Linked DNA regions of Homo sapiens: regions 1, 2, 4, 5 and 6 are each linked to region 3. The links come from fine-mapping of genetic effects on gene expression. A gene starts in region 3. Each other region holds a variant in brackets. All regions are shown on one strand. Distances are between the middles of the regions. Region 1 overlaps NACC2 (NACC family member 2). Region 2 overlaps NACC2 (NACC family member 2). Region 3 holds the start of NACC2 (NACC family member 2). Region 4 has its middle 40 kb from the start of UBAC1. Region 5 overlaps NACC2 (NACC family member 2). Region 6 overlaps RABL6 (RAB, member RAS oncogene family like 6).

Region 1 (5,070 bases), 20 kb before region 3:
AGATCACACCACTGCAATCCAGCCTGCACAACAGGGCAAGACTCTGTCTCAAAAAAGAAAAGAAAAGAAAAAAAAGGCTGGGTGTGGTGGCTTATGCCTGTAATCCCAGCACTTTGGGATGCCGAGGCGGGCGGATCACCTGAGGTCAGGAGTTCAAGACCAGCCTGACCAACATGGAGAAACCCTGTTTCTACTAAAAATACAAAAAATTAGCTGAATGTGGTACATGCCTATAATCCCAGCTACTTGGGAGGCTGAGGCAGGAGAACCACTTGAACTCAGGAGGCGGAGGCTGTGGTGAGCCTAGATCATGCCATTGCACTCCAGCCTGGGCAACAAGAGTGAAACTCCGTCTCAAATAAATAAATAAATAAATAACCCCAAAATGAATTGGAGACTTAAACATAAAACTAGAGGGGAAAGAAAAAAACACACAAGAGAATAAAATATTTGTAGAATCCGGGGCTAGGCAGAGAGTTCTTCCATAAAAGAAAAAAACTGATAAACTGGACTTTATCAAAATTTAAAAACTTTTGCTCAGCACAAGACACAGGTAATGGGATGAAAAGACAAGACACAGGCTGGTAGAAAAAACATGCCAGGAACACATTTAACAAAGGACTAATATCTAGGCTACATAAAGAATTAATTGGCCGGGTATGGTGGCACGTGCTTGTAGTCTCAGCTACACGGGAGGCTGGGGTGGGAGGATCACTTGAGCCCAAGAGTCCAAAACCAGCCTAGGCAACATAGGGAGACTCTGTCTGTACAAAAAATAAAAATAAACTAGCTGGGCATGGTGGAGCGCACCTGTGGTCCCAGCTACTTGGGAGACTGAGGTGGGAGGATCGCTTGAGCCTAGGAGGTGAAGGCTGCAGTGAGCTGTGGTCTTACCGCTGCACTCCAGCCTGGGTGACAGAGCAAGACTGTCTCAAAAAAAAAATTTTTAATAAAAAATAAAAAATGAGGACCCCAGTAGGAGCTGCAGTGGACAGGGGGTGTGAGCGTGGATCCAGCTGTATCAGAGTATAGTCCTGCCCATCAGGGGAGAAGAGGCGCTTGTCTCAAAGTGAAATGCACAATTGGTCTCGAATGCCAAAGAGAACAGGAAAAGACAAAAGACTCCAGTGGATGTATGGACAACCCAAGAATGTTTGCAGAAAGTCGACTTGATTTCCCTCGGTTCATAATACCTGGAAATAAGGAGTATGAAAAGCAGCTGCGTGTGTGCTACAATTTTGGCACAATTTGCTCAGTTTCAATGGGTCTATTCCTAATTGTTTTAAAGGTGCTTATGCATCCTCTACTGCCAAGTACTGCATTTGCGTCCAAGCAGGATTTGGTGTTCTGTCTGCTAAAATGCTGCCTGGTCTTGGAGTATCTGGTCTGCCCAGAAGCAGGGTCAGCAGTAAGCGGTGATCCTTCCCTCTGCCCTGAAAGCAGACCCTGGCTCTCACCGAAGTAACCAACAGGGATTTGCACAGACTCCGTCATGTCCTTGACTATTTTTTTAAAAAAATTAAGATCTTGGCCGGGCACAGTGGCTCATGCCTGGAATCCCAGCACTTTGGGAGGCTGAAGCAGAAGGATCACTTGAGTCCAGGAGTGAGAGACCAGGAGAGATGGTAAGATTATAGTCTCCACAAATAATTTGTTAAAAAATTAGCCAGGCATGGCCAGGCGCGGTGGCTCATGCCTGTAATCCCAGCACTTTGGGAGGCCGAGGAGGGCAGATCACGAGGTCAGGAGATCCAGACCATCCTGGCTAACACGGTGAAACCCCGTCTCTACTAATAAAATACAAAAAAATTAGCCGGGCATGGTGGTGGGCGCCTGTAGTCCCAGCTACTCGGGAGGCTGAGGCAGGAGAATGGAGTGAACCCGGGAGGCGGAGCTTGCAGTGAGCCGAGGTTGTGCCACTGCACTCCAGCCCGGGCGACAGAGCAAGACTCCGTCTCAAAAAAAAAAAGAAAAAAGAAGAAAAAGAAAACAAAGTTCTTCATTCCAGAAACATTAAGGTTCTTTATAAAGATGTTAATAATTTCTGAGGTTATTTAAAATTATGTATCATCCCTTCAATTAACACAGACGGA[C/G]AGGTCAAAACCATTCCTCGTTCTGTCACAGCAAGGCTGCCTGCCTTCCTCAAGGAACCTATCTCTGGTTCAACATTGACTCAATACTGACCGTGCCTCCACCAAGTCACACCCTAAACTGCACCGACAGATGAAGCTGGACCTTCCGAACGACCATCCCCTGTGACTCCCAGAGGGCCCATGTCGGTGGTCACATTCTGTTCCCAGCTCACCTGCGGGGCTCGGGGATGTATCACTCAGCCTCGGCGTCTACACCTCACACAGAGCGGCAGGAAGCGTGGCCTTCCCAGCCGAGGCGGAGTCGGCAGGGCCGGGGGATGCTGGCGGGAATGGGTTCTCGCACGGCCTCCTTCTGGGAGCCCGGGAGCTCTGTCCCCCACTCACTGTCGCGTATGGGGCTGGGGGAACAGCAATCGGATCCTCACGAAACAGTGACGTGAGGCCCAGTAGAGGACGTGACCTCCTCCAGGCCGACGCTCTTGGTTCTGCGTGAAATGAGCCGATTCCACCTTGTCCTCAATGGCGGCTTCTGCTCCCTCAAAGCGGCAGGCCAGGAAGTGGGGAGCCCCAGGTGTGGGTGCAGCAGGCTGCAACGCCCCCCACACACAGACTTGGCCTCAGACAGCTGTCACATGGCACCAGGGAGGTGGCCAGGACTCCAGGACACATTCTGGTCCAGTCCGGCACTGACCGGGATGAGGGAGAGCTGGCTGCGGCCGCCTGGCTGGGATACTTGGGGGGAAAGCCCTCCCTAGCTCCCCCGAGGCTGGCTGCTGCGAACTGACTGAAGCGCTCATTACAGGGTGTCCACTCTCCCCGGGCTTGGAACTCGGAGGCGAATGTCTCCCCGAGCCTGTTTCCCTTTCGTAGACGTCGGCAGCGGCTCCGTGTGAACCTGCCGTCTCCTACATCGCGGTACAGTTTCTCAAACAGATCGCGCAGCTGGGGCCAAGCCCAGGCTGTCGTGCCTGAGGACGCATCTTCTTTTATCGGGCATAGGCCCACATTCAGGGTTCGGGGTCGCAGGTCCTGCGGGAGCAGAGCCTGCAGGGCCCCCTCAGGAAACCTGTGCTGATGCTGTCCTGAGCTCCCTGTGCCCGGTCTTCCACACGCGGGGAGGACACCCCCGTGCAGACTGCGCCCAGGGGAGGAGACCCACCCAACACCCACAGGCCCTGTCGGTGAAACCTCAGAGACAGGGGTCTTGGGTTTGGGCTCTGAGGCTCGGGACACAAGATTCAATAAGAGCAAAGTCATCTCCTCTGGAGTGAGAGGCTGCTGAAAACGGAACCCAGGCTTTCCTACAAAGCGCCCAGGAGCAGCCCCGCAGCCCTCCATGTGCTCAGTGCCTGTGGCCCTGGGGCTGCTGCCCACTCCTCTGCTGCATCTGTGACAAAACTCCGAGACACCCGCTTCTCAAAGCCCTGCATGAAGGTTACGTGTGGTCACGAAGAGATCCTGCAAAGAACAGTCATCGAAAACTTGGAAATAAAGTAAACAGGCACCCTTCGCGGCCTCTGCCTGATTTGCAACTCAGTAGTGATGACACCCCATACCCCGTGACATCCTAAGTCTCCTATATGCAACCAAAAGAAAAGCAAATGATTTCCATCCAGTAGCAAAGAGAACCCCAAGGGGCAGCGTTTCCCGGCCCTGCGGAACTCGAAGAAGTGCTGTAACTAACCCAACAATCTATCCAGCCTCCTCTCCTCAGTGACTCTAAACACCCAGTTCCTCAAATGTTCTCTGAGCCAGGTTTCCTGCCCATACCACGACAAAAATGAAATGAAATTCTGATGCACCCCCCAGCCCGGTGAACCTCAAAGACACTATGCCGAGTGAAAGCCACCAGGCACACACAGACAACGCCACGGGGTTCCACTCACACGCGGGCACAGAGCAGGACAGTTCAGAGACAGGAAGCAGAACGGAGGTTTCCAGGGGCTGGGGGACTGCGGAGGGGAGTTGGTGTTCAATGGGTGCAGTTTCGGTCAGGGATGATGAAAACGTTCTGCAAACAGAGGTGAGGGTTGACAGCCATGGGAATGTTCTTACTGCCACTGAACTGTGCGCTTAAAAAATGGTTAAAATGGTGAATTTCATGTTGTGTATATTTGACTACAATTTTTAAAAAATGTATTGGCCTGGTGGTGGCTCATGCCTGTAATCTCAGCACTTTGGGAGGCTGAGGTGGGTGGATCATGAGGTCAGGAGATCGAGACCATCCTGGCTAACACGGTGAAACCCCTTCTCTACTAAAAATACAAAAAAAATTAGCCGGGCGTGGTGGCGGGCGCCTGTAGTCCCAGCTACTTGGGACTAGGCGGAGAATGGCGTGAACCCAGGAGGCAGGGCCTGCAGTGAGCCGAGATCGCGCCACTGCACTCCAGCCTGGGCGACAGAGCGAGACTCTGTCTCAAAAATAAATAAATAAATAAATAAAATAGCCGGGTGTGGTGGCGGGCGCCTGTAGTCCCAGCCACTTGGGAGGCTGAGGCAGGAGAATCGCTTGAACCCGGAGGTGGAGGTTGCAGTGAGCCGAGATTGCGCCACTACACTCCAGCCTGGGTGACAGAGAAAAAAACAAACAAAAATTAGCTGGGCGTGGTGGCGGGCGCCTGTAGTCCCAGCCACTTGGGAGGCTGAGGCAGGAGAATTGCTTGAACCCGGAGGTGGAGGTTGCAGTGAGCCAAGATTGCGCCATTGCACTCCAGCCTGGGCGACAGAGCAAGACTCCGTCTCAAAAAACAAAACAAAACAAAAAAAGCAGAAGAGAAACATGGCCTTTGGCAAAACAAACAAACAAACAACAAAAACCCTAACAGGGCACAAAGGACATTGTTGATAAGTCGTGCTTCATTAAAATATTGAAAAATAAAGACCAACACTAAGAGAAAAAACAAGCCGAGAAGGACAGACCTTTGCAACATATGTATCTTCAGCAAAGGGCGTGTGGTCAGAGTATGGAAAGAATTCT
Region 2 (5,070 bases), 41 kb before region 3:
GCAGTGCCCCCGCTGCGGAGAAGTTGCCGGCCGGTCGGGAAGACCTACCTTCAGCCGCTGCGGCCGCCGGCCGGCACTGCCCGCTCCGCCTGGCAGGACAGGCTCCCCGCACGCAGCCCGCCTGCCCAGCTGCTCCGCGAATGCAGCAAACGGAGCGGGAGCCCTGGGGCGGGGAGGGCGCAGGGAGCCGGCAAGGAGGAGGAGGAGGAGGAGGAGGAGGAGGAGGAGATGGTGGAGGAGGAGGAGGAGGAGGAGGGCAGAGCGCCTGGGCGCTGGGCTCGCGGCCGCAGCTCAGCTGCACCCAGGCCGGCCCTCCCGGGCAGCGCACCGCATCTCAATGAAGGGGCCGGATGCAGACGAACGTTCCGGCGGCTCGGGAATGAATAGCCGCCTTTGATTTGGGAGCCGAAGTAAATGCCAGCTCCCAGCCCCGGCTTTAAAAACAGTGGAGTGTTGGTGCCAGAGGAATGCGCGGCCCCGGGTGCTGGTACGAGACAGACTTTTGATGACTCACTGCAATGCAAACAAAGATGGCAGAAATACTGTACAGTAGTGGAGAAATGCTTCCCGGTGCCACGGCAACTGAGACAGCCTGGAAATTTATGGTGCAGTTTTGCATATGAATTACCCAGTAAACTGCCTCCCGGCCTTCCAGGACAGCCCCAGTGTCAAAGCATTTAAACTATTCCAAACAGTCTGCAGAGCTGGCAGAGCTGAACTCCTCCAGCGAGGGTGGGGAATGGGCAGAGGCGCCAGGGGGAGGGGGTGAGGGGGTCAGGACAGCTAGGGGAGCCAGGGAAGGGGAGGGGAGGTACAGCAGGGGGTGAAGAGAGGCACAGAAACGGCAGGCAGTGGGTGGGTGAGGCGGCACCCCAGGTCCTGGGGGCCTTAGAGCTGTGTCCTCTGCCCAGGCGGCAGGCCCGGGAGTCCAGCCCCAGCACCCCTCCCCATCCCACTCCCAGCGCCCTCCTGGCACTTTAAGAAAAGAGCGACTTTGTGGCCGGGCAACCAGGAGCCGGAAGGGGCAGCCCCGCCTGAGAGGTCCCAGCAGAGGGCAAAGCGGCCGCCTCGCTCCTCCCGCACACTCCTGGCTGCGGCCACACAGGCTGCACCTCCTGCCCAAGGGGGTCTGCAGCGTCTGGCTGTTATTGAGCCTTTTCCTGGGAAGGGGCTGCTGCTGTGCAGGACTTGTGGTGGCCCCGGGACCCCTCCAGAGAATGTGTACTTCATCCTGGGCTCATACCAGCCTCTCTGCGTGGGGCCCTGAGGCTGACCTCTGGACTGCCCAGCCTCAGTTTCCCTGCCACTGGCTGTGACCCCCAGGAAGAGCACATTCCACCCAAAAGAAGGGGCAGGGTCCAGGCTCGAGGCCTTGAGGTGAGCCCCCTCCTGCTTGGCCAGCTGCCTCCACCACCCTCGGGGTAACCCTGGCAGCAGGATGCGGAGGAGGCCCGAACAGGCCTGGTGGGAGGCAAGGCGACACAGCCCTGCCCCTCACTCCCGGCGCCCCTCTGAGGCATCCGGAGACCAGAGAGAGGGCCATCTGGCTCCTCCCTAGTCACACACCATGGGCTCAGCTTCTCCAGACCAGACAAAAAGCCACTGAATGGGGACGGGAAGAGATCCAGGTGCGGGGAAGCTGCCGGCAAAGGCCCGTGGAGGTGGCTTCGTGCCTAGTGTTTTCTGCCTCCTACAAGGGGCTGGTGACAACTCAAGGAGACTGGGATGGGGGCGTTTACAGAAACGTCCCCACTCGGCCATGCTGATGAGCTGGGCTCCACCGGGCCAGGAGACACAGGGCCCAGCTGTCACCCTCCCCGCCACACCCTCCACCCTCAGGTCCCCACTTAGTTTCTGCCTCATCCAGGAAGTCTGCCAAGTGCCCTCATAAGCTCGGCAAGGGCTGAATGCTGGACACAACCCGGGCAGGGGGGTACAAGAGAGGGGCCTGTGCAACACAGCACAGAGGGCAGAGGCCCCTAGACAGCTCCCTTCACAGACCCACTGCGCCCACCACCAGGAGCCTCCCAGAGAGCCCGTGGCTTCTGTTGTGGGCAACTTCGCCCCAAGGAC[G/A]GGGGGGTAGGGATGTCTGAGTCATACAGGGGCTTTTGTACCAAAAGAGGGGACAGGCAGAGGCCAGCACGGCGCACCGGTTCCTGGGGGTCCCAAGTACCTGGGCTGGGTAGGGCAGCAGCCAGGGCTGACACAGACAGCAAGGGACAATGTAGGCTCTCAGCCTGTCCCTTCCAGCAGCAAGAGGGTCCTGGCCTGTTGGCAAGGCTGAAATCCTAGGTCCCGTGGGCACCAGCCACTTCCTGTAAGGACACCTCAGCCTCAGACGCTGAGCTGTGAACTGGGGTTATGATTTACCCTCAGATGGTTCCTGGGGGTGAATGGAACAATGTTTGTGAAGCCGGCGGCTGAAGCCTCACACACAGAAAGCCGGTGATGCCTGCAACCTGCTGTGACCTGGGCAGGAGAGCAGCTCTCAGCTGGGCATCCAGGTGGGCGTCTTAACGCCCAGCCCAGTTCGGCCTGCGTCCGCACCTCAGGAGCTGGAGCCCCAGGGCTGGGGGACAGACCAGCTCTCCCAGAGAAGGGACCATTATTCCCTTTGAAGGTGATGGGGCCGTGTGGTCCCTGGGGATCGAGGACAACTGGAGCTTTTGCTGGCTTGTCCTCAGGCCACCTGCACCGGTGAGGCTGCAGCCCCACGCCCCAGCCTGCTGAGAGCCGGACAGGAGCTGGTTTTAGGTTGCTTTCTTGGAAGGCTCAAGAACAAAGCTGAACTTTAGGAGAAAAGAATAAAATAAAGGCTTGGCTCACGCCCCCAGGGCCAGGAAAGCAGACACACGGGGGCTGACCCTCCTGCTACACCCAGAGAGGAGGGGGCCGAGGGCCCAGGTGGGCCCAGGGACGTGAGCAGAGCTGTCTGCTCAGGAGGGCAGGGGCCAAGCCTGGTTCTCAGACATCAGGGCATCCCCACCCTCCCCTGCACATTCTCCAGTGACTCAGTTTCCCCACCACTTTGCTTCCCAAGCAACACCTCCTATTGTTTCCCCTTCTCGGTGAGATTCAACACACTCATTCACTTATGGAAAGTTCTGCAGAGCCAGGCAAAAAATCAGAGGTCGCCAACTTTGTTTACCCCAGCCATCCTCAGGGTTGTGGCACCAACGACCCTTGCTCTCAAAACGCCCTTCAGAACAGAACCCACTTTGGAGAACCTCTGCAGGTGACCCAAGGCCCGAGTCCACTCCCTGCAGCTGTGCCAGCCTTCGGTGCCCCACCCCACACAGACACACAGAGGAGGCTGGGTTCCTCTGAGCCCACAAGCCACCCTCAGGAATAAGAAAATACAGGTGGCTGTGGTGTCGGAGTGGGGGGTCTCTCCTCTGCAGAGCCTCACTTGAGGAAGGCTGAGATCCAGGCCTGCCCTGCCCTGGGGTTAGGGGTTGCCCACCATGATGAGCCCCATACCCAGCAACCTGCCGATGGGTGAGAGGAGCCCGCGGGGAGGACAGGGGCTCACTGGAACTGCAGCCAGACGCGCACACAGGGGTTGGGGCAGCGTCTCCAGAACGACCCCCCTGCCTGAGTGTCGTCCCGGCAGGATTCACACAAGGACACAGGTTACAAGGTTGGTGCCAGGCCAGGGCACCTGGGTCCTGGCATCAAGTACCCAGGAGCAGAGGCTCTGGCAGGTACAAGACCCCTGAAAGCATCCCCCAGGCCAGAGGACTGGGACAGGGACCAGTCAGGCAGCCCAACAGGAGGAGCCCTTTTCCTGGGGCCCAGCCAGGCAGCTCCATGGTCTGAGGGCCTCGCCCAGAGTCCCCAGAAACCCTGCCCCCTCCACCCCTAGATTGTAAAGCACTTTCTAAGCCCAGCACAGCAAACCAGAGGAATGCGGCACTGAATTTCTGCAGGATCACCACCAGCAAGGGGAAGGGAGGCGAGAAAAATTAAATTAAATTAAATTATCTTGCAGGATTTAATTTCACCAATCTAATAAGAGGTTCTGGACCTCAGCAAATGCACAGCCATTAAACACGTGGTAGAGGAAGGAGAGAGGCGGGGCACGGGAAACGTTCTGCGGAGGGGAGAGTCCCTCTACCCCGAGCCCCGGCCCCTGGTGGAGACTGCCTGGCAGTTAGTTAAGTGAGGACATCTCCTAAAAGGTCAATCGAAGGCGCTCCTGGAGCGTGAGAAGGTGTGGGGATGGGGCGGGCCTGCTGTGCCAGGTGCTCTGGAGTCAGCAGGAGCACAGGGGGTGTTAGGAATACAGTCTGGGGGCTGCTACCCCGTGGACCTTGCCCACCTCCGCGCAACGCCTTCCCTTTCCCATACGGTGCAGGCTCCAGGAGGATTTGCTTTGACCCTATACCTTCAGAAAAGAGGCCCTAGGGAGGACAAGGGGGCGGCAGGGGGCCCGGAGGTTAACCCTGGGGGGTAGAGGCTGCCCAGCTCCGGATGTGCCAGGGCCTCAGGGAGCTGGGTGTGGCACCAGCTTAGCCCTCAGGTTTGCATTAAACTTTTAAAATGCCAGAAAGCAGAGCTGGGCTGCCCGGAGGCCTGGCTGCTAATGGAACCACCAGCTCCATGCAGATGAGATGCAGCAGCTCTGGGCCAGGGCCCTCGGCGGCCAGGAACTCCCCCCAACCCCGAGGCCCCCACAAAAGCCAGGATGGCGTGTGCCGTGTGCTCACCTCCCCGCTACTGGACATACAGATGAGGAAACTGAGACCTCACAGTCGGGAGGCAGCGGGGCCAGGCCCCTAGCCATCATCCTTCCTGGGTGGTCTCTGGTCATCAAGTCACAAGAGCCAGAGAGGATGCCTGGCCCCGCCCAACAGACCCCGGGTAGCTACGACCCTGACCTGCCAGGGCCCTAAGGACTCTGTGGCAGAGAGGAGAGTTCCACCCAGGAAAGGGGCGCAAAGGCCCCCAGCTTCAGGGTCACAGAGGTACGGGGGGTCTCTGGGATGACGGGCCCCCTCGGACTATCACTGTCGCCCCAGCCTGGGAGGTGGAGGAGAGCCATGCAGGGCTGGGCCCAGGCCGGGCTCT
Region 3 (5,070 bases):
CACAGGTTCCCAAGACCCCTCATCAGCCCCCAGTGAGACCAGACCCAGTCAGACCTCACAAACTCCCGCACCTGCCCACATGCATCAGACGGCGGCTCAGGTCCAGCGTCCAGACGGGCTAGCGCTACTTCTCTCCTGCCTTGGAGGGCGCTCCACGGCCTCACACCACAGGGCTTTGCTTCTCCTTCGAGCCACGCCTGGAAGCCCAGCCCCAGGTTTCCTCAGCCCAGGCCAGAAATGTCACCCTGAAGTGGAAGGTGGCCTACCTTGTCCTCAGAACCACAATGGGAGGCTGGTCAGCCTGGGCCACTGAGGCAGGGACATGTGCTACCAAGGTGAAGGTGGACTGGGCCGGAGGAGCAGCAGAGTCAGGGGGCCCCATAGTCAAGTTCCCAAATGTGTTCGTTACACTGGGGTCTGTAGAAGGCCTTGGTTCTCCGGAGAAACATGCTGGTGTATCCTGGGGTAAGGGGTGCCACCTGCTGCCCCCCTGTGGACTCCGACCCTCATCCCACCGGCCACAGTCCAACTGGATCTCGGAACCCACTGCGTGACCCTGCAAAGGGGATGGAGTGACCCCAAGGGGCTGTGAGATGCAGAGAGGCAGCCTGGGGACAGTGTGTGGAGGTGGCTAGAACAGGGCTGGCTGAGGAAGGAACATGGGCTCTGCCCCACTGACGGTGGCTGGGGCCACTGGGCACTCGGTGCCCTGTGCGTTCCAGGGACACAGGTCAGAGGCACAGACCTCAGAGGAAGGGGCACAAGGTGGAACCTTGGGAACTCAACATCCCGAAAAGGACAACACCTTGGTTCCCCATTCCATCCCTCGGGCCTGGGAGACCACACTGCCCACAAACCAGGAAAGCAGGACTCCGGAGGCAGAGGCCAAGAGGAGTGCAGGCCTGGAAGAACCGCTCAGCACCAAGATCGTCACTGTTGTTTCATGAATAATGCAGCCTCATGCTTTAATTGGAAAACAAAGGGAGGATTGAAGAATTTTTTAAAAGTCACCACTAGCCCCCTGCCCAGGGCAGAGCAGCCCTGCGAACCCTTCCAGCAGCCGGTGGTAAAGAACAGAGCCTGTTCTCGCAGCCTGTAGCAGCCCAGCTCCCACTGCTCCCAGCAGGAGATCTCCCGGGTGGCTCCTCCCCGCCTTCCCGCCAGGCCAGGGCCAGCACCATCGAGCCCTGGGTGTGACCACTGCGAAAGGATCCCTGGCCACTAAGAAGTGACAAGTGATATCTTGTTCCACTCTCTGTGCCCATTCCAAGTGGCTTTGCCGAAAGGACAGGGGGCCACCACCTTGGGTGGCAGCTCCTTTTATTTCCTCCCCTTGGACTCTGGCCCAGCTACCACCCAACAGTGACCCCAGGGGAAAACGCCAAGAGGCCTCTTTAAGGGAGGGGCTGGGAAAGGCCCCACAGAGGACCAGAGGGGTGCTCCAACGGTGGCCGGGAGAAGAAGGGGTGGGTGGCTGAGAGGTGGCGGGTGGGGCGGGGGCTGCCTGAACCCTGACCTAACTCTAGGCGCCCCTGCTGGGGGGTGCTACAGGCTAAAACACCCTGCAGAATGCTGAGCTGAGTGTCCCACTGGAGAACAGGAGGGAAGGAGGTCAGGAGCCTGCCAGACGAAAAGAGGGGTGGGTGAGAAGAAGGGGCGACCTGGAGGGACACGGACTCTGGCAGGAGAGTGCGGCCGCGCTGGCGGGCGGGAACACCAAGGTGCACGCGCTCCCGGAGGCAGCTCCACGGGATGGGAGTCCGGGCTGCCTTGGGCACCCCCGGGTCAGCACCCCCGCCACACACAGGAAGGAACGCGCAGCAGAGAACACAGCTCAGGGCACCCAGCGGCCCAGGGAGACGGGCCCACCAGCACGTGGGTGAAACACCTCCAATCCGGAGGCCCCGCGCGGGGGTTGGGGGAGGGAGTGGAACGGCCTGGGAGGCCAACTCCAGGGACCCGGCCTCGCGGCCTTCAGACCCACAGGTTTAAGCGGCTCCACGACGAGAGTCCAAGACCAAACTTCCCCCAGAGCCTGGCAGAGGGGCTGGGAGGTGACCTCTGACCTCCGACCCCACACGATCCCAGCAAGAGAAGCAGGAAACTCCGTCGGAAGGCCTCGGTCCGCCCTGGCCGTGCGGGGTGCGCGGCGGGCCCCGGGCTCCGCTGAGTTTCTTAGAGAAGGAGCTGGGGCCCCCCGACCTCAGCTCCGCAGAGGCACAGAAGCTGGCAAGAGGCAGAGCCCCCTCCCCCTGCGGCCGGACCCCAGTTTCTCCCCAGGCTGGGGCCCGAGTGGGGGAGGCGCGGGAGGCGGTGACGACCCACGAACGGGCCCACCTGGACCGGGAGGGCGAGGCGCGGGCCCGGCTGGGCCAGGCAGCTGCGCAGATGCGCCGGGAGGGGTGGGTACCTCCGCCCTGGCCCCGGGCCAGTCCTGCCCCGGCTTCCCCACCCGGAGGGCTGGATCGGCCAGTCGGGTCCCTGGGGAGGCCGCGCGGGTCCCCAGAAATCCAGGGAAACCCAGCAGGCGGCGGGGAGCGCCCCGGGACGCCCGGAGCCGGGGTCTCCCCGAACGCGCGGCGCGGCGTCCCGGCCCGGGGTCGCGGGCGCCTCCGCCGGGACCCCCCGGCCCCGCCCGGCCCCCCTCCGCGGGCTCCCGAGGCCGGTTCCCGCGCGCACGCCCGGGCCGGCGCGGAACTCGGCCGCACCCGCCCCGCGCGGCCGGCACTGCGGCAGGGGGCTCGCGCCAAGTTGGGCGGCCGCGGAGTTTGCGGGAAGTGCGGGCCCGGCCCGTGGGACGACCCCGCCCGGCGGCGTAACCCGGGGGCGGCCGCGCGCGCCAAGTTGGCGGTACCTGCGGGCGCCCGGCCCGGTCCGGCCTGGGCAGCTGCGGCGCGCCGCCCGCGGCAGGAAGTGCTTGGCGTCCCGGCGCTCCGGCTCCCATGGACTTTCTCCGACCTCGCCCAGCACCGGCGGCCGCACCGCGGCGGGGGCGGGGCGGCGGCGGGGGAGGTGCCCGCGGGCCGTTAAAGGGACAGCGCGCCGGCCGCGCGCGCGCGCGCACTGGCAGCCAGGTGGGCTCCCGGGGTCGGGGCTGGGGTCCGGGGGCCGGGAGGGTCCCCAGTGGGGGCCGGCGGGGCGTGGGGAACCCCGAGCGCTGGGGAGGGGAGGCGGCAGCTCCTCGCCCCTCGCGCGTCCTCCTTCCGGAGCTGCCGGCGGTCGACCCTGCGCGGGACACCCGGCGGGAGCCGGACGCCGCGGCGCAGAGGACGGAGCTCGGCGGCCGGGTCGGGAAAGGACCTGGAGCGCCGCCCTCCGCCCTCCCCGGGCCCCGGCCTCGGCCGGACTCGCTAAGCCCGGGAGAGCCCCCGGGCCCCCCTACCCCGCCCCCGGCGCGCGCCCTGCCCGCGGCAGTCGCGTCCGCACGGTGCAGCCTCCGGGATCCGGGCGGGGGAAGTGCGCGCATCCGCAGCCGCCCTGGACGCTCAGGCGGGCCGTGAAAGACGAGGATACGGGAGCGCCCTTGGGCGAACGTCTGCGGGGCTCCGGCGCCCGTCCCTGCGGCCCGGGAACTGCAAGCTGCCTGGACTGGGCCTGGCGCTGCCTTCAGGCCTGGTGTGATCCGGGCGCACTGGGGCGTTGACAGTCATTCCGGCACCGGCCACGCAGCTCTCCATCTGCCCAAGGCCACGCTCCTGAGGACAGAGGTGCAGTTTTAAAACAAGGGCACGGAAATAAAACGGCCACACACCCGGAAAGACCCAGAGACCCCTCCTCAGCTGCCCCCTAACCTGGGGCCTGAGGTCAGGACAGGCTGCAGTGGTCCTCAGAGGCTAAGCCAGCCTCACTCCCACAGCACGCTCAAGGGTCCTTGCAGGAGAATGGAGTGATACCGCCTCAGTGGTCCCGAGCGAGGGCGCTGGGAGAAGGGTTGAGAAGGAGATGGCCACCAGCATCCCAGAGAACGCCTTTGGGGCTCTGGGGATCAGAAACCTGGGGCTACAGCCCTTCTGGCACAGTCAGCCAAGGTCATTCCCTGGACAAATCATCAGAAGCTTGGCCAGGTTCTTGTCACCCCAACCTCAAGCTAGGCCCTTGATCTTGGCCACAGACTGGCCCTTGACCCCAACTTTAGGTTCTATTCAGCTCTGCGTCCAGAACACACACACACACACACACACACACTTCACTCCCTGGCTTGCCTTGTATGGGGGTGAGTATGGAACCCCGCAGGGACTCTGGGCTCTCCCCACAGAGTCCCATCTAGACCTAAATGCAGTCCCAGGTCCCACACCCCAACCCCCCTCCCCCCACCACTGCCACTTCCAAACCCGCCCCGCAGTCTACTGTGGGAAGGAGGTGGGGTAGGAGGGTTCTGAGTGCCTCCTACACCCAGGGCATGAGCTCAGCAGCCTCAGGGTTCTGGTGCTTCCTAGGCCTGACTTTACAATCTCTGCAGGATCTCTCAGTGAGCATAGCTACCCCAAGCCCCTGAGAATCGTGAATCCCAGAGACAGATGCCTGGAGCTGCTTCCAGCCCTGGGGCAGGCCTCAAGGGGCTACCCACTAGGACCCGTGGCCCTCCAGGGATGGGAATGATTGTTTTAATCACTTTTATTTTCTAAATATTAAAGACATTCTTCCTTAGTGAAGGATATTTGGAAAGCATTGAAAAGTGTTTAGAAGATAGCGGATAAGCAGAAATCAATTCCCCAATTTCTGTGTGCCTATACGTATGTACACCAACATATATTTGCACCTTTTAAAGCAAACCCTGCATCCCTACTGAATTCCAGGCCCGTGCTACTGAGTATGTACACCTTACCGCATTTAACGTTCACAACAGTACCATGAGGTGAGCTCTGTTTATTCCTTTTTTTTTTTTTTTTTTTGAGTCCGAGTCTCACACTGTTGCCCAGGCTGGGGTGCAGTGGCGCGATCTCAGCTCACTGTAACCTCTGCCTCCCGGGTTCAAGCGATTCTCCTGCCTCAGCCTCCCGAGTAGCTGGCATTATCGGCACGTGCCACCACGCCCAGCTAATTTTTGTATTTTTAGTAGAGACGGGGTTT
Region 4 (5,070 bases), 94 kb before region 3:
GTGACCCCCATTCCTCCTCCCCTGGGTGCAAGGAGCTGGAGCCCGGTGGGGTGGGCACACACAGAACCAGGAGGAGCAGGAGGAGCCTCTGTGGGTTCCCCTGGCGCTGTCAGGAACCAAGGCTGCCAGCCCTGCCGCTCCAGGGAGGCACAGGCGCCTCCAGGCCGGCTCCAGAATCCTGCCAGCCCCTCTGTGCTTGGGCCTGGGGGCTTCTTTCTGCCACAGCCACTGTTACGATGGAGGAGAGACACTGTCATCAGCTTCCTGCCCCCTGGCCAGCACCTGGGCTAGGTTGGCACTGGAGGTGCGCTCACACGCCAGGTGAGATGCCAGCCGGGAGCAGGGCTCCCCAGGCCTCGCTCACAAAAAGCGTGGGATGCCCCTGCTGGCCCTCGGCTGTGGCTGCCAGTTCTCACAGCCTCAAGACTCTGATTCCAGAAACTGAAGTCAGAACAGACAGGTGCTGCCCAGGGACCTGCCCCAGCCCTGGGACCTGTGACATGGGCCCCGTGTCCCTTCTGATGCAGAATCCAGTCACCAAGCTCCAACTCTGTGGTCATGCCTGGCTGTTCTGGGGTGAGCAGACTGCTGGTGCCCCACAAGGCCTCTGCAGCGGCTGTTGGTGATTTGGCCTCTGGTGACACTGAGATGGGCCTAGAGCAGCCCCTCCCCCAGGCAGTGGGACCCTCTCTCTTCCCACCCCTCCACTGTGGGCAGCTCTGGGTGGATGGAAAATGGTTTTATTTTTATTTTTATTTTTTGATGGAGTCTTACTCTGTGGCCAAAGGCTGGAGTGCAGTGGTGTGATCTTGGCTTACTATAGCCTCCTCCTCCCGGTTGCCTAACCATGCCCGGCTAATTTTGTATCTTTGGTAGAGATGGGGTTTCACCATGGCTGGTCTCAAACTCCTGACCTCAAGTGATTCGCCCGCCTCGGCCTCCCAAAGTGCTGGGATTACAGGCATGAGCCACCGGCCGGGAAATGGTTTTAGTGCAAATACCATAAGCAAGGCAAAGGCTGGGAGGCAGTGAGGCCCACACTGTCAGCAGCCAGGCAGGGGCGGCCCAGCCATGCCCCAGGGAGGGGTGTTCCCTAGAGGAAGGGCCCCAGGGTGCTTTGTCCTCCCCTGCTCAGCAATCTGAGCAGCCAAGGCTTCCAGAACCCCATTATCAGCAGACCCAGATCTCAGGCGCCAGCATCAAAGAGAAAAACGCAAGCAAGTATATCTGGCATCTCGGAGGAGGGTACAAGATGAGTGGATATTAAAACACCGAACTTTGGGCCGGGCACGGTGGCTCACGCCTGTAATCCCAGCACTTTGGGAGGCCGAGGCAGGCAGATCACGAAGTCAGGAGATCGAGACCATCCTGGCTAACACAGTGAAACCCCGTCTCTACTAAAAATACAAAAAATTCGCCGGGTGTGGTGGCGGGCGCCTGTAGTCCCAGCTACTTGGGAGGCTGAGGCAGGAGAATGGCGTGAACCCAGGAGGCAGAGCTTGCAGTGAGCCAAGATCAAGCCACTGCACTCCAGCCTGGGCAACAGAGTGAGACTCTGTCTCAAAAATAAATAAATAAATAAATAAATAAATAAATAAATAAATAAATAGAGAAACTCAGAACTTCTCTTGGGCCAATGCCCACCCCACAGCAATGTGACAACCACGGAGGCCCAGTGAGCTGGGAAGGCCTCCAGGCCCCGGTACAGGGCTCCGTGGTGAGCAAGGAGAAGCGTGCATGTGGCCGGGACAGGTACAGGATGGCTGCGGAAGTGGGAGTGTGACCGCTGACAGATTTGCTACCATCCAGGTCAGAGGAAGATTTTTTTTAACACTCATCCATCTGGTACAAAGGGAAACCATTCGTAAGCCCCGGTGTTGGTAAGGGGGCGGCATACAGGCACATCTCCGGCGAGGACCGCGGATGCCTCTCGGGCGGGCCGTGAGGACACCTCCACCCCGGCGTTCCCATGAGCCCAGCAAAGGGAAGCTGAGCAAAGATGCGCAGAGCACCCCGATCTGGACGAGGCCTGCAGACCACAAAGCTGGATGCAGTGAGTGTGCAATTGTTGTGTGAGGCTGTCCGCACCTGGGTCCGTGTAGTCTCTGCACACGAGTCTGTGCTGTATGAGGAAAAAGCCAGGTCTCTCCACCAGAGAGTGTGGGCCGTCCTCTCTGGGCAGGAGGGATGCCCTTATGGCCTCACTCTGTGTGGCCAGGATGTTGAATGCAGAGTCCAGGCCCATGCCAGACCCCCAGAGCCAGATCTGTGCACTAACAAGATGCCCGGGGCGGGGGGGGGGGCGGGGTTGGAGGCACAGTAAATGTGAGGAGCCTGATGGAGTTCATGCCCTTGGCTGAACATGTGGGGAAACTGAGGCACAGAACAAGGCGATCTCATGAAAAGGTGGCATCAGAGGGGTGTTCCAGTGTTGTTTGGGGGTGGTTTTTGCTGCATGGTGGTTTTTGCTCCCACAGAAAAGGGGTGCTGCTTGGTCAAAGCTTCAGCGGTGGGGAGGGAAAGGAGTGGGGTGGGCAGCAGTGAGGCCCCTGGGGGAAGGGGCAGGATTCTGAGGACATCAACAAGGCAGGGCTGGCATGGGAGACAGGTGCAGGCCCCTGCTGGGGAAGTGATGGGTTTCAGGGGGTGGGGGGCTCCCTGCCCTGGTGGGGGCGGCCTGGGGTGAACCCTTCCTCCAAGCTCGTCCGACCCAGGCTACCAGGGAAAGACTCATGGCAGAGGCCTCCAGAAAGAAAGGGGCTTGGGTCCTCCCTGAGCTACTTGTTTAGAGCAAGGAGCCTCCATCTCTCTCAGACTCACCCCCAGCCCCCAGCCCTGGCCGGGTCACCTCGCCCGCTGTCAGCAAGAACGTGGCTTCAGCTTCTAAAGCAGCCCTAAGGTTGGCCGGCTTGGCCCGTTCACGTTCACGGACACTGGCCCCTCCTGGGTGCGGGAACTGCCTCAGGGTTGCAGTCAGGTTGGCTGGGCTGAGGGCGCCTCTGCTTAACCCTCTCCTCTCCTGCAGGCCCTGAGTGAACCCAAAGCCACTGCTGGGAAACACAGAACGTGCCGGGAAAGGCCTCCCTCTGCAGCTGCTCCTGGCATCCCTGCACGGGG[C/T]CTGAGGCTTGTCACAGGCCACGAGCCGCACGCCCTGCCCCGCCTGGTCCTCTCAGCAGCCTTTCCCCGGGGGATCAGTTTCTCTTCCCCACCCTGTCTTTAAATATATACACGTACTGTATATGTTTTTTTGTTTTTGTTTTGTTTTGTTTTTGAGACGGAGTCTCGCTCTGTCGCCCAGGCTGGAGTGCAGTGGCATGATCTCGGCTCACTGCAAGCTCCGCCTCCTGGGTTCAAGTGATTCTCCTGCCTCAGCCTCCCGAGTAGCTGGGATTGCAGGTGCGCACCACCACGCCCAGCTAATTTTTGTATTTTTAGTAGAGATGGAGTTTCACCGTGTTAGCCAGGATGGTCTCGAACTACTGACCTCAGGTGATTCGCCCGCCTCGGCCTCCCAAAGTGCTGGGATTACAGGCGTGAGTCACCGCACTCGGCCATATACGTATGTTCTAAACCCACCATTTTGGCCATTTTTCAGTGCACGACTCAGTGGCACTGAGCACAGTCCCCTTGTCCTGCAGCCATCACCCTCCGTCTGCAGAAGGCTTCATCTTCCCCAACTGAAGCTCCGCCCCCACGAAACACTGGATCCTGCACCCACAGCCTGGCCCCTCCATCCTACGTACCGTCTCTGTGATTTTGGTGACTGGGCACCTCACGAAGTGGACGCTTGCAGGAGGGAGTTGTCAGCCTGGCTCCTCTCACCGAGCCTCGTGCCCTTGGGGTGCATCCCTGTTTTAGGGCCCATTGTGTTGCACTTGGTGGGTGGACCTTTTCTGTGGGTTGTCATCCGTTCATGGGCTCTGGGTGGCTGCACCTCTGGGCAGTGGGGAGGGGCGCTGCCGTGACCGTGGTATCCTGCAGGGTCTTTGGGGCCACCCGAGTGCTTCTCCCCAGGGACCCCGATCCACCTGCCTGGCTGCAGCCAGGCTGGTCTGAGGGCGCCCCAGGGAGGATTCCTTGCCTTTGGGATGGCCAGGCTGAGCCCAGTGCCCAACCCAGCTTTGGTGCTGACTCCCTCACAGGTGTCCTGAGCTTCAACTGGCCACTGTGCAGGCTCTTGCCACTGCTACTGTCAACCTTCCCAAAGAGCCACCTCCATGTCACCCTGTTCCCTGAGGAACAGGGCCAAACAGCCCAATCCATCCCTCCTTGGAGGAGAGCCGAGGAAGCCCCTCGTGGTGCGGGTGGGGTGACGTGAAGGGACAGGTGGCACCTCAATGTGTGTGTGTGGTAGGAAGGAGACCTCAACCCTGGGCTGGGATCCCAGTTCCAGGGCCACCCCTGGGCTGAGGCACCTGGAAAGACACGTCCCCTCTCACCAGCTCACAGGCCCCAAGCCCAACCTTGAACCGGGTCTTGTCTGTCCCAGAGCCCCTTCGTCACTGGGAAGTGCCTGGTCTCCAGGAAGGGTCCTGGCCGACTGATGAGGGACATGGGACAGCTGGGGAACCAGGTCCAGTGGCCAGCCAGAGCTGCGGACATTCCTGGGCTGCTGGAGCCTCCCAGCTGGAGGGGAGGGAGGAGCGGGGGATGAAGACACGTGTCCAGGGCCTCGGAGGCTGTCCCTCTGTCCCTCTGCCTCCTGACTGTCCCATGTGACCATCCCTCCTTCTCTCCCGAGTGCAGCCCACAGCGGGGCCGCAGCTGCTTCCTTGAGAGGGAGCCTAGTTTTGCCCTCAGGAGGACTCCAGGAAGAGGGGCTGAGGGGAGTGAGGGGTGGGCACCGGGGAGCTGGCTCCTCAAGGGCTTGGCTTGGAAGGGGGGGGGGGGCACCCTGAAGCTCCCGTGCCAGGGAGAGCTGCCTCCTGGTGCCAGGGTAGGCATCCGGCGCTGGTGCTCAGGGAGCCCCATTCCAGAACCTGCCCGACTACGGGGGCCAGAGGGACACATAGTGACCTCCCCAGGTGGCCTCATCTTACCTGCTGGAGCCGGGAGCCAGCCAAACACCTC
Region 5 (5,070 bases), 87 kb before region 3:
CCAAACTGACAAAGGGGGTGGGAGGCCCATGCAAGGCTCCTGATGCCTCAGCCGGTTTCTGTCGGGGCTGCAAGGGCGAGGCGGCCGTGGGAAGGATGGGGGACGGGGAATGGGGGACAAGGGATGGGATGGGCAGCAGGTGCCTGGCTCCCCCTCCTCCTTGGAAAACCAGGGCCGACTTGGTGGAGGACTGGGCTGGGTAGGCCCCCTCCCAGAGTGGCAGGATTCCTGGGCCAAGGTGGGGCATTCTCCACGACCCTCCCTCCCCTAACTGGGCCACCCAGACCTCAGCAGTCCTAGCTGCTGAGGGGGCCTGGGACCCACCTGGGTGCGGCATTTGGGGTCTTGCAGGTGTGCATCCAAGCTGTCTGTCCTCACCAAGCTCCCCACCAGCCAGGCAGGTGCTGGCCCTGAGAGCTGGGGGCTCTGCTCCTTCTCCAGGAAGTTGAGTCGGATACACTTACCCTGGAGGCCTGGGGCTGGGCTTGGTGGTGGGATGGGGACTGGAACACTCCGTGTTCCCTGGCCCCCACTGGGGAACAGACCCCTTGGGCATTCCTGGTGGGGACAGTGTGGTGATGTGGCTCCTGTAGGAGGCAATGGCTCAGGGTGACCTCAAGCGCCATCCCCTTGCCACATGGGCCCTTCCATCCAGGGGGCCCATATGGAAACCACATCCATCCATTTGAGACAATCAGGGGCTGCCCTATGCTGGCTCCAGAGGACCCTCTTCTGGGAACATGGCCATGAAGCCCTGCCCAATAAATCCACCACCTCCCTCCAGTACGGCGGGTGCCATGAACCCTGTGAAAGGGGAAGAGAGGCCAGGGAGGGGTGCCCGTAAGGTGATCAGGGGTGGTCCCCTGGACGAGACCCTCACAGGACCGCAGGAAGTGAGGAGCCTGCCAGGAAGGTATCCAGAGGAAAGTGCTTCCAGACGTAGGAGGCACCCATCAAGGGCCCGGCAGGACAGGTCTGGGGGACACATGATTGCAAAGCACTCAGCCTGTCCTTGTGGATACGCCAGAGGAGCAAAAGGGAATGGGGCTGGCCACGCAGCCTGAACCCCAGGACACCAGCCCCAGAGCTGGAGAGAAGGCCAACCCCGCGGGCCCAGCTCTGCCCACCTGCACTTGTCTCTCTGTTCACCTGGGGGCAGACATGGCCCGGGAGGGGGTGGGGGAGGGGGAGGGAAAGAAGGAGCCACGCACCTTTTGGGTGGCAGGTGAGGCAGATGAAGGGGCTGCCCCACTTCTCAGACAATAAAACCAAGGTCCCGAAAAGGAGACCCCCCGACCCTGGCAGGTTGCCTGCGGGTCCGGACAGGGCCCCCCTCTAGCAGGCACACTAGTACCTGCAGACATCCTACCCACCTGCCCCTTCCCTTGTAAAACACTGGGGAGAGCAAGAGATGGGTCAGGTGACCTTGAACCCCACAGCCAGATCCCTGCCCTGTTGTGTGGACAGCTGGCCTGGGGACGCCGCTAACAGGGACGGGGTCCTGAGGGTGCCCCTGGGGGACCATTGGCCACCCCTGCCTTCAATAGCCCAAGCTTGGCTTCTCTGTGTCTCCCCCAAACCCCACAGGGCCAAGCCAAGTCCAGGAAACTTAGGTTTGAACTGACTTTATTATTTTGTAAATGTGAATTTTACAAAGCGCTTTACAATTAATGATCACATCCTTTTGTTTGTCATGGATTTCCACTGTCTGAAACGGCTCTGAGCACGCTTGAAGCCCTCGGTTTCCCTGTTCGCTTTTGAATGTTTCAGTTTTAGTTATTGATACAATGTCAGCCATGGCTAAAAAGTAACAGTCTTGACTCTACCGAGTAACAGCACAAAAACAGAGTGAGGGCTCAGGAAAACAAAACAAAGGCTTCCTCCTTAAAAAAAAGACAAAAAAAAAAAGCTAAGCATCTGTGGCTGAAATCTAACTCAGTGGTACTGTGAAACCTTCCTTTACAGCACAGGAAAATTTATTTTTTAACAGTCGTGAGTTACAGTACTTTAACCCCTAAACAGACTCTTTAAAACAACCGTCTCCTTTTTAAAAGTCTCTTTTTTCCAAACATTCCATCCGAAGGATGGATGCTCTACTTGCACCCAGTGCCATCCAAATCTTCAAGTCAAAAATATTTATACATTTTATACTTAGTTCTTTTTTTTGTCTGCTAAAAATAGTATTGCAAGTTTTGGCTTCTTTTGACATAAAAATCACAATCGTGTACGATGCTAACAATGGAAGCGACTGATCGGAATACGAGCCGGTCGTCCAGTCTGAATGCTTGCGATTCTGCATGATTTTCCTTTCCTTTTCTTTTTCCAAAGAAACAAAACAAACAAACACGAAAAACCTTTGCCATTTTAGAACCATCTTGTACCAAACCCTAAATGCTCCGGTGGTGACGTGCACGCGCGTGCACACACACAGACACACGCGTGCACACATACACAGACACGCGTGCAGAGACACGCACGTGCACACAGACGCGCGTGCACACATACACACAGACGCGCACACACACGCGCACACAGACGCACACACACAGACGCACACACGCACAGACACACACATGCACAGACGCGCACACACAGACGCACAGACGTGCACACACAGACACGCACACACACACAGACACGCGCACACGCACACTCTCACCCACGGAGCTGGCTGGCTGACATGACAAAAGTATGCAGCAGCAACATTCTGAAACAGTAGTTACAGCTGAGGACAGCTACGAGCTCTGGATTCTGCGCTTAGGACTCGCTGCTGGCAGAGGCAGACAGAGGGTTCTTGGAGTTTTCAGTTGGTTCATGGGCCATAGATCTTTTTCCACTTGCTGCCAAGATGTTTCC[A/G]TAAAAATTTCCCTTTGAGGGGAGCCCAGGCAGTACACGGCTGGGTGGGGTGGGGGGACTGGGCCAGCGCTTAACAGTTTCAGCTGTCGAATGAGGACAGGTCAGGGTCAGGCACTAGAGCCCCCTCAGAGGGGGACCAGCCCTCCCTCCCTACCTTCCGCCTTCCTCCTGGCTCTAAACACAAATGCCAAAGAATGACTCTTCCTGGAGGAGAAAGGAGGCCAGGCAGCCGGCTCCTATGTTCTAGGAGCCCCGACCCGCAGTCACCAACGCCGGCACCCCCAGGCGGGTCCTGCTGACCTCTTGCCCACAGCTTTGTCCACATTCAGGGGCAAAGTACAACAACCAAATCCAATGCAAAGTTAAGTGACGACAGAGAACTCGGGTGGACAGACACAATGCGGAAAACAAGACAGAATTCAAGTACCGAGGCACCCAGCCAGGCGCGGCCCGCCGGGCTCACAGTATCTGTCACACCTCCGGTCCCTCCTGGACCTCTCCATGCAACCCAGCTGCCTCCTGGGCCCATCCCCTTGGGGAAGAGGAAGGCAGGGCAGGAGAGGCGGCTAGATCCCAGGCCCACCACCTGCCAGGCGGCAGCTCCAACACGGTCCAGTCCCTTCTGTCCTCCTCAAAAGGTGTGGAGATAACGTAGCTCTGTAATAGATTCTATATAGGATATGCGTATTGCTAATAGTCAGGCTTAGGGATAAAGGTGCAGACATCTCATAAATACTGAGTGGCTCGTCTCTCTCTACAGGGTCTGGATGAGTCAGGGTCACACTCACAGGACAGGACAACCCCGGATTCTAGAATTAGTCATCTTGTAAACAAAGGAGGGAAGGGTCCGGCTTTCTTAATTGGTTTCCTTGGGAAAAATGATCAAAGGATGCTAAGGCACTCTGGAAGGCCCCTCTGAGCCCGGGCCGCCGCCCCCGCCCCACGGTACATTCAGGACGTGGAGGGAGCACACAGCAGGTCCGCTCAGCAGCCACGCACGTCCACAGACACTCCCGACTCACGCCCACCGTGGGACACATTAGTGCAAAATGCTCGGCCTGGCCCGCCCGGGGCGCAGGGAGAGCTCAGAACCCATTCACATTAAATTATTATTATTTAAGTTTTATCTATAGCTCTTGCCTTCCTTACCCAGAACAAAACAGACGGCGATTACAAACGAGTGAGGAAGGGGCACGGGACATTGTGCGGGCCTGAACAGCAGTCAGGCGTCCTCTGTGCAGCCACCACCTCCGGCAGCAGCCAGCGGCTCCCTCCCTGTCCTGGCCAAGGGTGGGGGGGCACCCACTTTGGAGTGGAGGGCAGAGAGAGCCCTTCTGTCAGCAGCCAGGCCCCCAGGGATGGTCAAATTAAAGTGCAAATTTGGGTGTGGGGCAGATGAAGGAAACTCCAGAGGGAACTCAAGTGCAGCTCAACCTCACCTACCTGCCCCTGCTCCACCCCGCGGCTTCCTCCCATCTCCGAGGAAGGCTTGGTCCAGGTTCCCAGCGGGCCCCATGGGGGCTCCAACCCCACCTGTGCCCAAGACAGGGGAGGAAGAGGCAGAGAAAGGCTCCCTCTAGGCTGGGTGGTTCTTAGTTCAGCAGAAGGTCTGGATGCCTCTGCACCACTGAGCCACCTGCAGCCCTAGGAATGCAGGTCTTGGTCCCCCTGGACGTGGGCCCTGAGGAATGGGTGGAGGGGCCGAGGTTAGCGTCCACAGTGCCTGCCCATGGTCCCCCACCTCCTTCTGGAAAGCAACGTATTTTTCTGGAGGGCAGGCATGTGCTGGGCCTGGCTGGAGGCAGCCCAGGAGGCTGAGTGCTGTCTGTAGAGGCGGCCCCACGGGAGGTCTCCTAGGGCCTCGCCACAGGGGTGGGCTTCGGGGCAGAAAGGAGCCGCCCAGTGGGAATGCGTCTAACCCACACCCTGTAGGTCCCCAGGCCAGGGTGCAGCACATGGTCCTCCCCTAGCGGAGGCGGCCTCCGCTTGATGGGTTGTGGAGGTTGGGGGAGTGGGGTGCGCTGGTCGGCCACCGCTCACTGGCCTGTGTGCACACCGGAGGGGGTGCTGATGGGCGCAGGGCTGCACTTGTTTTGCAAGTGAAGATGGGGAAGCCGAGTTCTGGAGGGACAGAGGTGAGCAACAGACATTTCAAGTCTTGGGATGGGGGGTTCTTCTGGCCACACCTGGGAAGGAGGGCTGCCCCTGGACAAG
Region 6 (5,070 bases), 720 kb after region 3:
TGGACCATAATGGATGAAAAAGTCAAACTCTGTCAAATATTTGAAGAGATTTATTTTTGAGCTGAATATGAGTGACCATGGCTCGTGACATAGCCCTCAGGTGACCCTGAGGACATGTGCCCAAGGTGGAGGGCACAGCTTGGTTTTATACATTTTAGACATGAGACAGTAATCAAATACATTTAAGATATATGTTGATTTGGTCCACAAAGGCGGGACAACTTGAAGTGGGGGCTTCCAGGTCGGAGGTAGTTTAAAAAAATTGTGTTTTTTTGCCGGGCGCGGTGGCTCACGCCTGTAATCTCAGCACATTGAGAGGCCGAGGCAGGCGGACAACCTGAGGCCAGGAGTTCAAGACCAGCCTGGCCAACATGTCGAAACCCCGTCTCTACTAAAACTATAAAAATTAACCGGGTGTGATGGTGGGTGCCTGTAATCCCAGCTACTCAGGAGGCTGAGGCGGGAGAATCGCTTGAGCCCAAGTGGCAGAAGTTACAGTGAGCTGAGATTGTGCCACTGCACTCCAGCCTGGGTGACAGAGTCAGACCCTGTCTCAAAAAAAAAAAAAAAAACAATTGCACCACCACACCCAGCTAATTTTGGTATTTTTTAGAGAGACAGGGTTTCACCACGTTGCCCAGCTGGGCTCAGACCCCTCTACTCAAGCAGTCCGAACCCCTTGGCCTCCCAAAGTGCTGGGATTACAGGCGTGAGCCACCGCGCCTGGCCAGATTATGTTTCTTATCAGACTTAAAGTCAGTGTTGATGTTAAATGCTGGTGAGCTTTTCCTGAATTCCAGAAGGGAGGAGGCCACAATGAGGCCTGTCTGACTCCCCTCTTCCCATAATGGCCTGAACCAGTCTTTCAGATGAAATTTGGATGGCCCTGGCCTAGAAGAGGAAGTCCATTCAGATGGTTGGCAGGCCTTGGGATTTTAATTTTGGTTTACACAATTTTGAAATTATTTGCATATAAAATTATTAGGAAAATTATTTGAAATTATTTGGAAGAAAGATTGTTGCCTGAGTTGGTCTGTCCCTTTCTACTGTGACTGGACACAAAATATCAGTTGTATTTGGTGCAGAATTTTTCTGTGGAGTTGCTCCTGAGTGAGCATTATTGTGCAGCTCTGATACTGGCCTGGCCCAGGAGCTCGGACAACCAGAGTCCTCTCTGAGTAGACACTGGTGCGAATTTAGAAATGGGACTTAGCAGGCCGGGCACGGTGGCTCACACCTGTAATCCCAGCACTTTGGGAGGCTGAGGTGGGCGGATTACATGAGGTCAGGAGTTCAAGACCAACCTGGCCAACATGATGAAACTCATCTCTACTGAAAATATGAAAATTAGCCAGGTGTGGTGGCGTATGCCTGTAATCCCAGCTACTCGGGAGGCTGAGGCAGGAGAATCGCTTGAACCCGGGAGGCAGAGGTTGCCGTGAGCCAAGATCACACCACTGCGCTCCAGCCTGGGCGACAGAGTGAGACTTCGTCTTAAAAAAAAAAGAAAAGAAAGAAAAGTTTATATGAATATCCAGTCAAAACAAACAAGGAAGGTATTACCCTTGAAATGTTGTCTATACGAATTTCCAAGGAGACCACAGGACTGTAGACTGTCTTGGAATGTCCTCAGAGAGCTCTGTCATTGATCAGGTAACGGAATAAAAACCCCAGCGTCCTTTCTTTCAAATGGGAGAGGGAAAGACAAAGGGACAGAAGCCGTTCAAACTTTGTCTTCTTTCCTTGTGGCTTGTGGTCACCTCTGCCTCCCCAGAAGCTGCCTCGCCCACCAAAGCCTTCCTGGCTTCTGCCACCACCTCATCCTCCAAAGCTTCCTCTACCTCCATCACAACCCCAAAGCCACCTTCGCCCTTAGGTTTGGCCCAGTCCAAGTTACCTTTGTTTCCCTCAATTTCACCATCTTCCGCGGCCTCCTTGGCGCTTTTGGCATCCTCCTCACTGTTGCCATCTACAGAGCCAAAGCCTTTGGGGCACCCGGTTTCCTGGTTGGTGACTACCCTTGCCCAACAAAGCTGTCGAATGACTAAAGCCTCTTCAGTGGTGTCCTCAGACAGGCCTTTGACAGACAGTTTTAGATGGCTGGCTCCTGGCATCAGGTGGTCCTTGCAACTCCAGCCTGATTGCCCTGCCCCCAGTTTCCCTTTTATTACAGGAATTTAAAGCTGCTTTATCATCTTCAAATGAAGCGAACTGTAAGTGCATGCACACCCTTTAGATTTGCCATTTTGGTTCTGGGGCACTTTGATAAAAGTTGCCTTGTCTCAGATTCTTTCTGAAGAGTTTCTTCTGTTGCACTGTAGGAGAGGTTGCTTAAACCAGAGTTTTTGATTCACCCCTCCAAGTGGTCTCTCTAGTCTTGATTTAGACCTTTCTCTCCATGATAGTGCAGGGAAATAGATCGGCCATCCATCTCTGTTCCCTGCGTTTCTT[C/T]AGAAGTTTTCTCTGCATTAGCTTCTGTCTTAACCTCAATATAAGCAGTCCCTTTACTCTTCCCATCCTTGCTGACTAATCCAATCTCCACAGCATCTTCAAACACTTTTTTGTTTTTTGAGCCAGAGTCTCGCTCTGTTGCCCAGGCTGGAGTGCAGTGGCCGTGATCTCAGCTCACTGCAAGCTCCACCTCCCAAGTTTGCGCCATTTTCCTGCCTCAGCCTCCCGAGTAGCTGGGACTACAGGCACCCGTCACCACACCCAGCTAATTTTTTGTATTTTTAGTAGAGACAGGGTTTCACCGTGTTAGCCAGGATGGTCTTGATCTCCTGACCTCGTGATCTGCCTGCCTTGGCCTCCCAAAGTGCTGGGATTACAGGTGTGAGCCACTGCGCCACTGCGCCCAGCCAAAACACTTGTAATTCATCCTGAGTGACTTTGTAAGGGAGATTTGTAGCCAAAAGTATTCTCACATCTTGCTCTTTCTTACTGTCTTTTCCTTTTGGTTTCTCTAGTTTAATTTCATTGCCAAAGTCTTTCAAACCAGCGAGTTCCAAGGCTCTTTCCAGGTCTTCAGCAGCTTGAAAATCCACATAGTCAGATTTCCTTGTCATACCCATTCTGACATCCACAACAGCAAGATCATTTTTAGCAAAAATATCATGGATACTAGTTTTTGTTTTTCTTTCTTTTTCGAGACAGGGTCTTGCTCTGTTACCCAGGCTGGAGTGCAATGGTGCTCACTGCAGCTTCCACCTCCCGGGTTCAAGTGATTCTCCTGCCTCAGCCTCCCCAGTAGCTGGGACTACAGGCACGCACCACTACGCCCGGCTAATTTTTGTATTTTTAGTAGAGACAGGGTTTCATTATGTTGGCCAGGCTGGTCTCAAACTCCTGACCTTGTGATCTGTCCACCTCAGCCTCCCAAAGTGCTGGGATTACAGGCGTGAGCCACCAGGCCTGGCCCATGGATACTAGTTTTTAACTCAGGAGCAGACTTGTTAAAGTTCAGGTTTCCAACAAAGATTGAAAGACGTTCCAGCCTGGCCAACATGGTGAAACCCCGTCTCTACTAAAAATACAAAAATTAGCCGGGTGGTAGTGGTACACGCCTGTAATCCCAGCTACTCAGGAGGCTGAAGCAGGAGAATCACTTGAGCCTGGCAGGTGAAGGTTGCAGTGAGCCAAGATTGCGCCACTGCAGTCCAACCTGGGCGAGAGAGTGAGACCCTGTCTTAAAAAAAAAAAAAAGGCACAGTTGGTTCTGTGCTTCTCACTCTCCACTTTGTGTTTCTTGGCTTCAGAAGCTGCTGTTTGGTCATTTCCTTCATTTTCCAGGTGCTTCTTTGACAGACCCTTCCTCCTCTTTGTCGTCTTCATCACTTCATCCTCTTCATCATCGTCACCCTCGTCCTTGTCCTCATCATCCTCTTCATCTTCATTCCCAGCCATCCTCTTGGCTTTCCCAGGAACAGCATTTGTAGAAGCTTTCTTTCCTTTGGCTGGTGTTGTTTCCATAGGTGCTGCTTCAGAGCCATCTTCCTCAGCATCGTCCTCATCGTCCTCGTCCTCATCCCCTGAGGCAGGGGCACCCGCTGCTGCCTTCATCACTGCTGGTTCAGAGTCATCCTCCTCCTCATCGCTGTCTTCCTTCTTGGCGTTCTTGCCGTTCTTTGCCCCCTTGGCTGGGGTGTCCCTTCTTGCCAGGAGCTGCTGCCAGTGCTTTGCCTGCTATGGCTCCCTTCTTGGCAGGTGTGGCGACTGCTTTGCCTGGAGTGACAGTTGCTTTCTTGGTGGGTGTGGCACCTGCAGCCTTTTTTGTTCGGGAAACTGTCACCTTCTTGGCTGGGGTTGCAGCAGCCTTCTTGCCTTTCTCCTGAGGTGTGACAGTCTCTTCTCCACAGCTGTCATCTTCTTCATCTTCTGACATTTCCTCATCTTCACTTCCTCCTTCTGCCTCCTTTGGGGGAGCAGCCATTTTCTTGGGGTCACCTTGGTTTTTACCTGCCTCGACACCAAGTAGTCTGAAGCTGCTGAGGATGGGAAATCTTTGCAGGGTGCAGAGTGGGAGAGGAGCAAGGTGTGGCTGACACCAGCTGCAGCACAGGCTGTCAGGGTGGGGAGGTGGCTGGGCCCTTGTAATGGGCCCAGGAGATGCTGCTGGCACTGTGAGAGGGCCTGGTTAGGAGTTAAACCTTCATGCATCTGAGATAAATCATAAGCTCTTCTTGGTATGAAAATGTAAGAAAATTATTCCATATTTTGCAGGAAAGCTGCAGGAATGTGAAGGAGTTAAATTGAATCAGGGTAAGAAAGGCTCAGGGCCTCAAATAGAGCTCTGTGTTTTCTGCATTGTATCTTCTAAAACAAGCTTAGAACAGAGGTCGTGTTCACATCCCGTTTAGTAAAAGAGCAGGTTTACCATGAGGTTAAGTACAGGTAAGTACAGGGCTTCTTAGCGTTTCTTGGATGAATCCTAAAGGTTTTCCAGGAGAATCACTTAGCTTATTGCAGCCAACATTTAAGATTCTGAAGTTAAGCAGAAAAAAAGAAAACCCAAGATCAAGGGACCAGCAGGAGAAAAAAAAGATTCTGAAATTGATTTTATTTATTTAGGGT

Evidence for each region.
Region 1: its variant is fine-mapped to the expression of NACC2 in whole blood (TOPMed, PIP above 0.99).
Region 2: its variant is fine-mapped to the expression of NACC2 in whole blood (TOPMed, PIP above 0.99).
Region 4: its variant is fine-mapped to the expression of NACC2 in whole blood (TOPMed, PIP above 0.99).
Region 5: its variant is fine-mapped to the expression of NACC2 in whole blood (INTERVAL, PIP above 0.99).
Region 6: its variant is fine-mapped to the expression of NACC2 in lung (GTEx, PIP 0.95).

Annotation. Positions count from the first base shown.
Region 1 is chr9:136,072,495-136,077,564 of GRCh38, forward strand. The region is part of intron 1 of NACC2 (NACC family member 2); the gene reads right to left. Among named protein-coding and RNA genes, the nearest start is that of NACC2, 20 kb to the right of the region's middle. RefSeq lists an enhancer at 2,142-2,892. The variant C/G (reference allele first, on the strand shown) is at 2,094.
Region 2 is chr9:136,051,684-136,056,753 of GRCh38, forward strand. All of the region lies in intron 1 of NACC2 (NACC family member 2), which reads right to left. Among named protein-coding and RNA genes, the nearest start is that of NACC2, 41 kb to the right of the region's middle. RefSeq lists enhancers at 1-38, 4,150-4,750, 4,751-5,070. The variant G/A (reference allele first, on the strand shown) is at 2,074.
Region 3 is chr9:136,092,335-136,097,404 of GRCh38, forward strand. It overlaps NACC2 (NACC family member 2), which reads right to left and starts at 2,955. Exons shown (of 6, transcript NM_144653.5): 1 at 2,855-2,955. RefSeq lists an enhancer at 971-1,662 and silencers at 2,868-2,997, 3,318-3,417.
Region 4 is chr9:135,998,441-136,003,510 of GRCh38, forward strand. No RefSeq gene overlaps it. Among named protein-coding and RNA genes, the nearest start is that of UBAC1, 40 kb to the left of the region's middle. The variant C/T (reference allele first, on the strand shown) is at 3,118.
Region 5 is chr9:136,004,928-136,009,997 of GRCh38, forward strand. NACC2 (NACC family member 2) reads right to left here. Exons shown (of 6, transcript NM_144653.5): 6 at 1,610-5,070. Among named protein-coding and RNA genes, the nearest start is that of UBAC1, 46 kb to the left of the region's middle. The variant A/G (reference allele first, on the strand shown) is at 2,857.
Region 6 is chr9:136,811,063-136,816,132 of GRCh38, forward strand. All of the region lies in intron 1 of RABL6 (RAB, member RAS oncogene family like 6), which reads left to right. It also overlaps the pseudogene NCLP1. Among named protein-coding and RNA genes, the nearest start is that of CCDC183-AS1, 4.8 kb to the left of the region's middle. The variant C/T (reference allele first, on the strand shown) is at 2,452.